Linked DNA regions of Homo sapiens. The protein of the gene in region 2 interacts with the protein of the main gene of each other region in a pairwise test. Each region holds a gene or a part of one and is shown on either strand. Other genes may lie near its edges.

Region 1 (3,500 bases), on a different chromosome or scaffold from region 2:
TAAAATTTTATGTTAATATAACTATCTGTAATCTATGAAACCATTTCCAAATAACTAATGAGGAATTTGCATTTTGTTATAATATTAGAAGGTATGTCAATTCGTGATATATTTTCCTTCTCATACCCACAATACTCACCTCATCTGCCAGAAGTGATAATTCAGTACTGTTTGCTGCATCATAATCATAGAGAACCCTGGCCTTTCTGCTGCCACTACACTCCTTAAGGTCACTGAGGTTGGAAGGAGAGGTGATTACTAGGCCACTTGTTGAAGCCATGGCAGAAGAACCAATCGCATTTGGTAAAACTGATGGTACAGGTGTCACAGAAGTCTGATTGTTGTTACTAAGATAATTGGATGGAAAACTGTTGAAAAGAAAGCAGCGAATTATTTATTTCCAAGTGACTAAAGCTCCTTAATACCACCACTCGGTGGCGCTGTTTACTTTCTACCAACCTTCACATTGGAAAAGATTTATAGATATTAATAATACGTTAATGACAAAGTATATCTATCTTCCTTTTCCCTCTTGGGCCAATTATACTAGAGACAATTCAGGTGGTATTCAAATATAAATCCTTGAAAGTCTGTTTCAAAACTGTCCTTATAATATTAACTTAAAATTAATGGCTATACTTTTTTCCCCAAAAAACTTCCATTAGAATGTTTTCTTAATCTTTTCTTTATAAATTACTAAATAAAAATATTGATGAAAAACTACTTAAATATTAGATACTACAAGTATGAGGCTTTCTTAATTTAATTCTTTGAGAAATATTTGAATAACTAAACCTTTTTTTCATAAACTGGTCCAATCACATTTTCCTATTCAAATAAAATATTTATTGTCATTTACATGTAAGTATTATTTACTTGTATCTACATGTTCAGCATGACTATGAGAAGCAGAAGACGTAAGATGAAATGATACTATTCCCTTAAGGACATACACATAGTGAGAAGGTAGACATTCAAATAATATGACTGCTAATTATCTCAATGAAATTGAAGACTCAATGGTAGAATAGGACAAATTTTACAAGTTCATTTGTGCTATTTTTTAGAAAAATTTTCTATTAGAAATTAGTGATTTTTGTGATTAATGTGCTCATAAATAATTTGAAGATAATTAGAATTTTCAGTTTATTTTAAGGCTAGTTTCCCCAATAATACCAAATATAAAACAGTACAAAATAGCTGGTCTGACATCATTCTAATTCAACCATTTCTAAGCTAAAAAATGATCTACAAAAATTCAAAGTTTTAATAAATTCATTAAACTAGAAAAGTCCTCTTTTCTCTTCACGAGCACTATACCATCTGGAAATCATTTCAGTCATCAGCAAAATTCCCTGTATCCTTAACCTCTTCTCTAAACCTTCCCTTCATCCTCCAGTGCTAGCGTTTATCTCCCATACTCCTCTTTTATCACTGAACCTAGAGGTCAATGGAGGAGTCTTATGTTCTTCATCACTGTTTTTAGACTCTTTTCCCTAAACAATTCTAGCCAATCCTTCAACTTCATGTTATTCAACTATAGCACATCATCTTTTCCTCCCACATTATCATATTTTATCATATTACATTTTATCATATTATCTTTCCTTCCCATATTACATTTTCTCCATCTATTGTATCATTCCCAACTCTTTAAAAAAAGAGATACCCAGTATCTCTTACTGCAATCACCTACAGATGCCTCATTCCCTTACTTTCATTTCTAGAAGATTTTATCACCTGGCTCACTGACATTATCTCTTACTTAATTCTTGGTGACTTTAATATCCAAATGGACAATTCTTCCAACCCTTTAGCCTCTTAGATCCTCGAACTCTTCTCTTCTAGTGACTTCATACCTGATCCTAGTTCAGCCACCTATTCCCACAGTCACATCTAGATCTTACCAATTCCAGTAACCACAACCCTTCCAATAATAATAGTTTCTACTATCCCATTCTTTGACCATCGCCTTTTTCTTTCAAGTGCTCTCACATCAACAAGCCTACCAGGGTCTATGATCCTACCAACACCTTCTTCATGTCCATAGTTAATTATTATAATAACTCTTAGATATGCTCTCATTTCTTATGCCACTCACTTCATTGTACTGATTTGGTAAAAACCTATTTACCTATTCAGTATCCATGCATCTACTTTAACAGGAGAAACACAGAAAAGCTTTGTTTTACATTCAATTTATGACTAGGAACCTCAAGTGGGTCCACATGCCACCTGGCAATGATACTACATTTCTCTACTCCATTCACTTTCACTTTCATTCCCCTGATGACTATTTCATACCCTCTTGCCCATCCTCAAAATTTCAGCAGTTCTCCCCATAACCATTACACTCAGTTGATGAGCTTGCTTCCTTTTAACTGAGAGGAAAAAAGAACAATCAGGAACTCCTTTTTTTTTTTTTGATACAGGAGTTCATTCCTTTTGCCCAGGCTGTAGTGCAGTGGTTCAATCTTGGCTCACTGCAACCTCTGCTTCCTGGGCTTAAGCAAGCAATTCTCTCGCCTCAGCTTCCTGAGTAGCTGGGACTACAGACATGCACCTCCACACCCAGTTAATTTTTGTATTTTTTTGTAGAGACAGCGTTTCACCATATTGACCAGGCTAATCTCAAACTCCTGAGCTCAAGTGATCTGCCCACCTTGATCTCCCAAAGTGCTGGGATTACAGGCATGAGCCACTGCGCCTGGCCAGGAAACTCTTTAATGAGCTGTCTATGCTCCTGATGCTAATTCCTCCATATGTGCACAAAATCTCATCCTTTTTTGCCTCTCTAGGGTATCACTCTAGCAATTCTTCCCTTTCCCTCCCACATTATCATATTTTCTCCACCTAGTGTATCATTCCCATCAGCTTACAAACATGCCCTTATTTCTCCTATCTTAAAAAACAAGCAAAAAATTGCTAGACCCCACTTTCTCCTCCGACTACTGCCTCATTCCTCTGTTCCCCTTTACACCAAAACCCCTTGAAAGATTTACGTATTCTTACGGTCACAATTCCTCTCCTCCGAGTCTCTTATATTACAAACATTACTTTGCGCCTACTGTTTCACCAAAACTACTCGTCAAGGTTAGCAATGACTTTAATGTTCCTAAATCCAATGGTCAATTCGTAGTCCTCTCACTTGACCTAGGCAGTGACCATTCTCTCCCACTTTCACACATGTTCACTTGACTTCCAGGCCATACTCTTAGTTTCCATTTTACCTCACTGCCTCACTCGTTATCATCTTCCTTGCCTCGTTCCTCAACTCTCTATGCTAGAGTACTTCAGGGATCAGTCCTTGATCCTCTCCTTTTCTCTATACTTACTCCTTTGAGGGTTTATCTAGTCTCACAGATTTAAATATCTTTGATATGCTGACAACTCTCTAATTATCTAATTCACCCTGCCCCCAATCCAAGTCCAGACCTGCATATCCTAAAATTGGATACCTCCACTTAAATGTTTAAGAGACATCTCAAACTTAACATATT
Region 2 (4,277 bases):
ATGTATGGTGACAGAATTTTGACATACATTCAATTTGATGGATCGAGTTTGGTCTTTTTCTTTTTTTGAGACGTCATTTCACTCTTGTCACCCAGGCTGGAGTGCAATGGCGCAATCTTGGCTCACTGCAACCTCCACTTCCCGGGTTCAATTGATGCTCCTTCCTCAGCCTCACAAGTAACTGGGATTACAGGTGCCTGTCACCATACCCAGACAATTTTTGTATTTTTAGTAGAGACAGGGTTTCACCATGTTGGCCAGGCTGGTCTTGAATGCCTGACCTCAAGTGATCCACCCACCTTGGCCTTCCAAACTGCTGGGATTACAGGTGTGAACCACTGTGCCCGGCCAAGTTTGGTATTTTATTGTTGTTTGGATTTGCATTTTCCTGCTTATTACCCAAGTTGAGATCTTTTCCAGATTATTGGACTTTTCAAGTTTCCTAATTATGAATTGTCTGTTCCTGGTTTTTGCCTATTTTTCCAGTTGATTATTGGTCTTTTGATTGTGAATTTTTGTTTATTGTGAATTTGTGAGACTTAAAACATTTTTGCATATTAATTCTTTTTTTTTTTTTTCCAGACAGAGTCTCACTGTCACCCAGGCTGGAGTGCAATGTGGGGATCTCAGTTCAGTGCAACCTCCACCTCCTGGGCTCAAGCGATCCACCTGCCTTGGCCTCCCAAAGTACTGGGATTACAGGCATAAGCCACCATGCCTGGCCACTGTATATTACTTTTTAATTTTACAAGTTGCAAATGTTTTCTCACGATCTGTCACTTTCTTTCTTTCCTTCCTTCTTCTCTTCTTTTCTTTGTCTTTTTAAAATTTGAGACAGGGCCTCACTCTGTCACCCAGGCTGGAGTGCAGTGGCACGATCATGGCTCAGTGCAGCCTTGAACTCCCCAGGCTCAGGTGATCTTGCCACCTCAGCCTCCAGAGTAGCTGGGAGAACTACAGGTGCATGCCACCATACCCAGCTAATTTTTTTTTTTTTTTTTTTGTGTGTGTGTGTGTGTGTGTGGAGATGGGGTCTTCCTATGTAGCCCAGGCTGGTCTTGAACTCCTGGGCTCAAGTGATCCACCCAACTTGGTCTCCCAAAGTGCTGGGATTATAGGCGTGATCCACTGTGCCTGGCCCTGTCATTTCTTTTCTCAGAGAGGATAACAATTTATTTGTCCTACAGAAAGTTTTAAATGTTGAAGGAGATTGGCCTGGAAATATGCTTTTGGGGAGCAACACGGTCTGAGCCAGACATCCAGATACAGCCCATTCTTCTGGCCAGTCTTGCCCTTTGCTCCTGATTCTCCAAGCTGTACCCAGAGCTTTCTGGTTCAGCATGTACCTGGAGGCTGCTTTTGACCATGTTTTGAGAGTGGCATGGCTTTATCTAATGGGATGAACCTGGCTAAAGAGATTAGCAAAATGTCTTGTGGATCCCACTTTTAATCTGCAGCGTTCAGGCTGCCCCTTCTTGGCTGGGAAGGGCGCTGAAGAAACAACGCCCAGGACCAGGACTATCCCCTGCTCAAGCTGTGATTCCGAGACCCCTGCCACCACTACTGCATTCACGGGGATCCCAGGCTAGTGGGACTCGACATGGGTAGCCCCCAGGGCAGCTCCCTACAGCTTGGGCCATCTGCACTTTTCCCAAGGCCCTAAGTCTCCGCCTCTGGGCTCGTTAAGGTTTGGGGTGGGAGCTGTGCTGTGGGAAGCAACCCGGACTACACTTGGCAAGCATGGCGCTACTGAAAGTCAAGTTTGACCAGAAGAAGCGGGTCAAGTTGGCCCAAGGGCTCTGGCTCATGAACTGGTTCTCCGTGTTGGCTGGCATCATCATCTTCAGCCTAGGACTGTTCCTGAAGATTGAACTCCGAAAGAGGAGCGATGTGATGAATAATTCTGAGAGCCATTTTGTGCCCAACTCATTGATAGGGATGGGGGTGCTATCCTGTGTCTTCAACTCGCTGGCTGGGAAGATCTGCTACGACGCCCTGGACCCAGCCAAGTATGCCAGATGGAAGCCCTGGCTGAAGCCGTACCTGGCTATCTGTGTTCTCTTCAACATCATCCTCTTCCTTGTGGCTCTCTGCTGCTTTCTGCTTCGGGGCTCGCTGGAGAACACCCTGGGCCAAGGGCTCAAGAACGGCATGAAGTACTACCGGGACACAGACACCCCTGGCAGGTGTTTCATGAAGAAGACCATCGACATGCTGCAGATCGAGTTCAAATGCTGCGGCAACAACGGTTTTCGGGACTGGTTTGAGATTCAGTGGATCAGCAATCGCTACCTGGACTTTTCCTCCAAAGAAGTCAAAGAGTGAGTGGCTTCCAGTCCTGGGGTCAGAGCTATGAATATATTGGGGACACTGAGGCTCAGGCCTCTGACCAGCCCCTCTCCCCGCACCCAGTGCCTTTTCCTCTCCATCGGGTGCACAACTTATTGCTGCGTATGTGAGGGTGTATCAGGTGGAACCATATGAAATTGCTAATATTCTACCTCTTTGACCCATAAAAAATGACAACTTCATAGGGTTCAACCTAACATTGGCTAAGGTGGTAGGAAGGTATCAATTTATATAAGCTGTTTGGATAGGAGCCCCTTGGGATGAAGAGCCAGGCAGCAATGTGTGTCCACTTTATACAGAGGGATGGAAGTCATTCATAGATCACAAACACTGAGGTACTATTTGGCTATTTGTCCCATTCATTCAAAGTAGATGGATTCAGTCCCAGAAGTTTAAATTTCCTAGTTAGTTCCCTTGTTTTCCAACCTTTCAACCCTGAGCATCCATTCCCAAGATGTTTGTCTGGATATGTTGGAAAGAGCATAGGAAGGGGAAGTCATGAGATCTAGGGTGAAGTTTTGGTTCTGTTGTTCAAGGTCTTGTGACCTTGGGCAGGTCACTAGTCACTCTGCGCTTTGGCTTGCCCATCTTTTAAATGAGCACTGGAATAGAATAGGTAATTTTGGAAGTCACCTCCTAGCCCTGCCTGGTAGCTGGCATGCAGCAGGTACTCATTAAATGCTTGCTGGTGTTTACTTAGCGAGTCATGATAGTGCAATGTGATAAAGCATTTCTAAAGTATTCTTGGCATATGTAAAAGTAAAATGCTGCGATGGGCTGTGGGAGGTGCTGGTGAGAGAGAGACTCTCGACCACTGTGTCGGAGGGAACAGCCTGTGCACTGGCTCCAGCGGGCTGCTCTTCCCAACACACCCACCAACCTGGGGCTCGAGTGACTTTTCAGGGAAAGGGCAGCCTGCCTTGAGGCAGCCGCTTTCCCTCACCTCTTCTTTCTGTCTGACTCGACCCTACCTGGCTGAGGTTAGGGGTTCAGTTATTCCTAAGGGTGGTTTTTTTTTCTTCCCAGTGAGGCTGGCAAGTCCAAAGGGAACTTGAACTCAGGGCATTGGCACCAGCAGCAGGACATGTTTGAAGCCCAAAACAACATTAATGACGCCCAAATAGCTAGCTTATATCTGCCCTGCAGATGGAAGGGACGTCCAAGTGAAGGTCACTTCTTGGGATTTTATTTTCTTGTGGATGGAGATTACTGCTGCAAATCCCCAGTCAGGAGAGGATTGTAAAGGGCTGTGCCCTTCCCAGGTGACAGGTCTGCAGGGGCAGCACAAGATGCCACGATTTACATAAATCTCCCGAGGAGGGCATGAAGCCAGGGGGACAAGCAGAATTCTGGGGAGTGGGAGAGGCCGATGGTAGAACCAGCCTCTGTGAGCAGAGGCTCACAGAGAAGGGGCTTTTCATCTTTTCCTCTATCATTTCCCTTGATTGTCTCCTGCATAGAGTCAGTTCTTGGACAGATGTATTCAAATCTCTCGGTAACTCCAAATCCCCTTTTGTATCAGAGTGAAGGAATTATCTAGGTCACTCCACTCTCAATGGTCAATGGATCCAAAATTTCAGGCAAATATTTAGCTGAATCAAAACTCCTTCAATGTCCCATACCAACTTGTTGGTGGGAAATTTTCCTAACTCCACTGACTTGGAAAAATTCTTCTATTACACGCACAAAAAATACAGCAGTAATATTAAAAGAAGCCAAAATAGGAAAACAAATTCAAGCTAGCTTCTCACCCATAACTTGATTAATGCCTTTAGTTTTTCTACATTTCAGTTTCAGTCTAGTCTTGTTAACATTTACATAATCATACAGTGTAATGATAGTATAAAGACAATTTAGGGCCGGGTGCGGTAGCTCACACCTGTAATCCCAGCACTTTGGGAGGCCGAGGCGGGCGGATCACCTGAGTT

Evidence for each region. Proteins that work in one complex are often made in the same cells at the same time.
Region 1: the proteins of PRPH2 (region 2) and SH3GLB1 interact in binary tests that used the Homo sapiens proteins (3 or more experiments, as listed by UniProt).

The regions. Positions count from the first base shown.
Region 1 is NC_000001.11:86,739,076-86,742,575, reverse strand, and holds part of SH3GLB1 (endophilin-B1), read right to left. Parts: intron 369-3,500; coding exon 140-368; intron 1-139. UniProt on the Homo sapiens protein: May be required for normal outer mitochondrial membrane dynamics. Required for coatomer-mediated retrograde transport in certain cells. May recruit other proteins to membranes with high curvature. May promote membrane fusion.
Region 2 is NC_000006.12:42,719,798-42,724,074, reverse strand, and holds the start of PRPH2 (peripherin-2), read left to right. Parts: upstream 1-1,477; 5' UTR 1,478-1,740; coding exon 1,741-2,321; intron 2,322-4,277.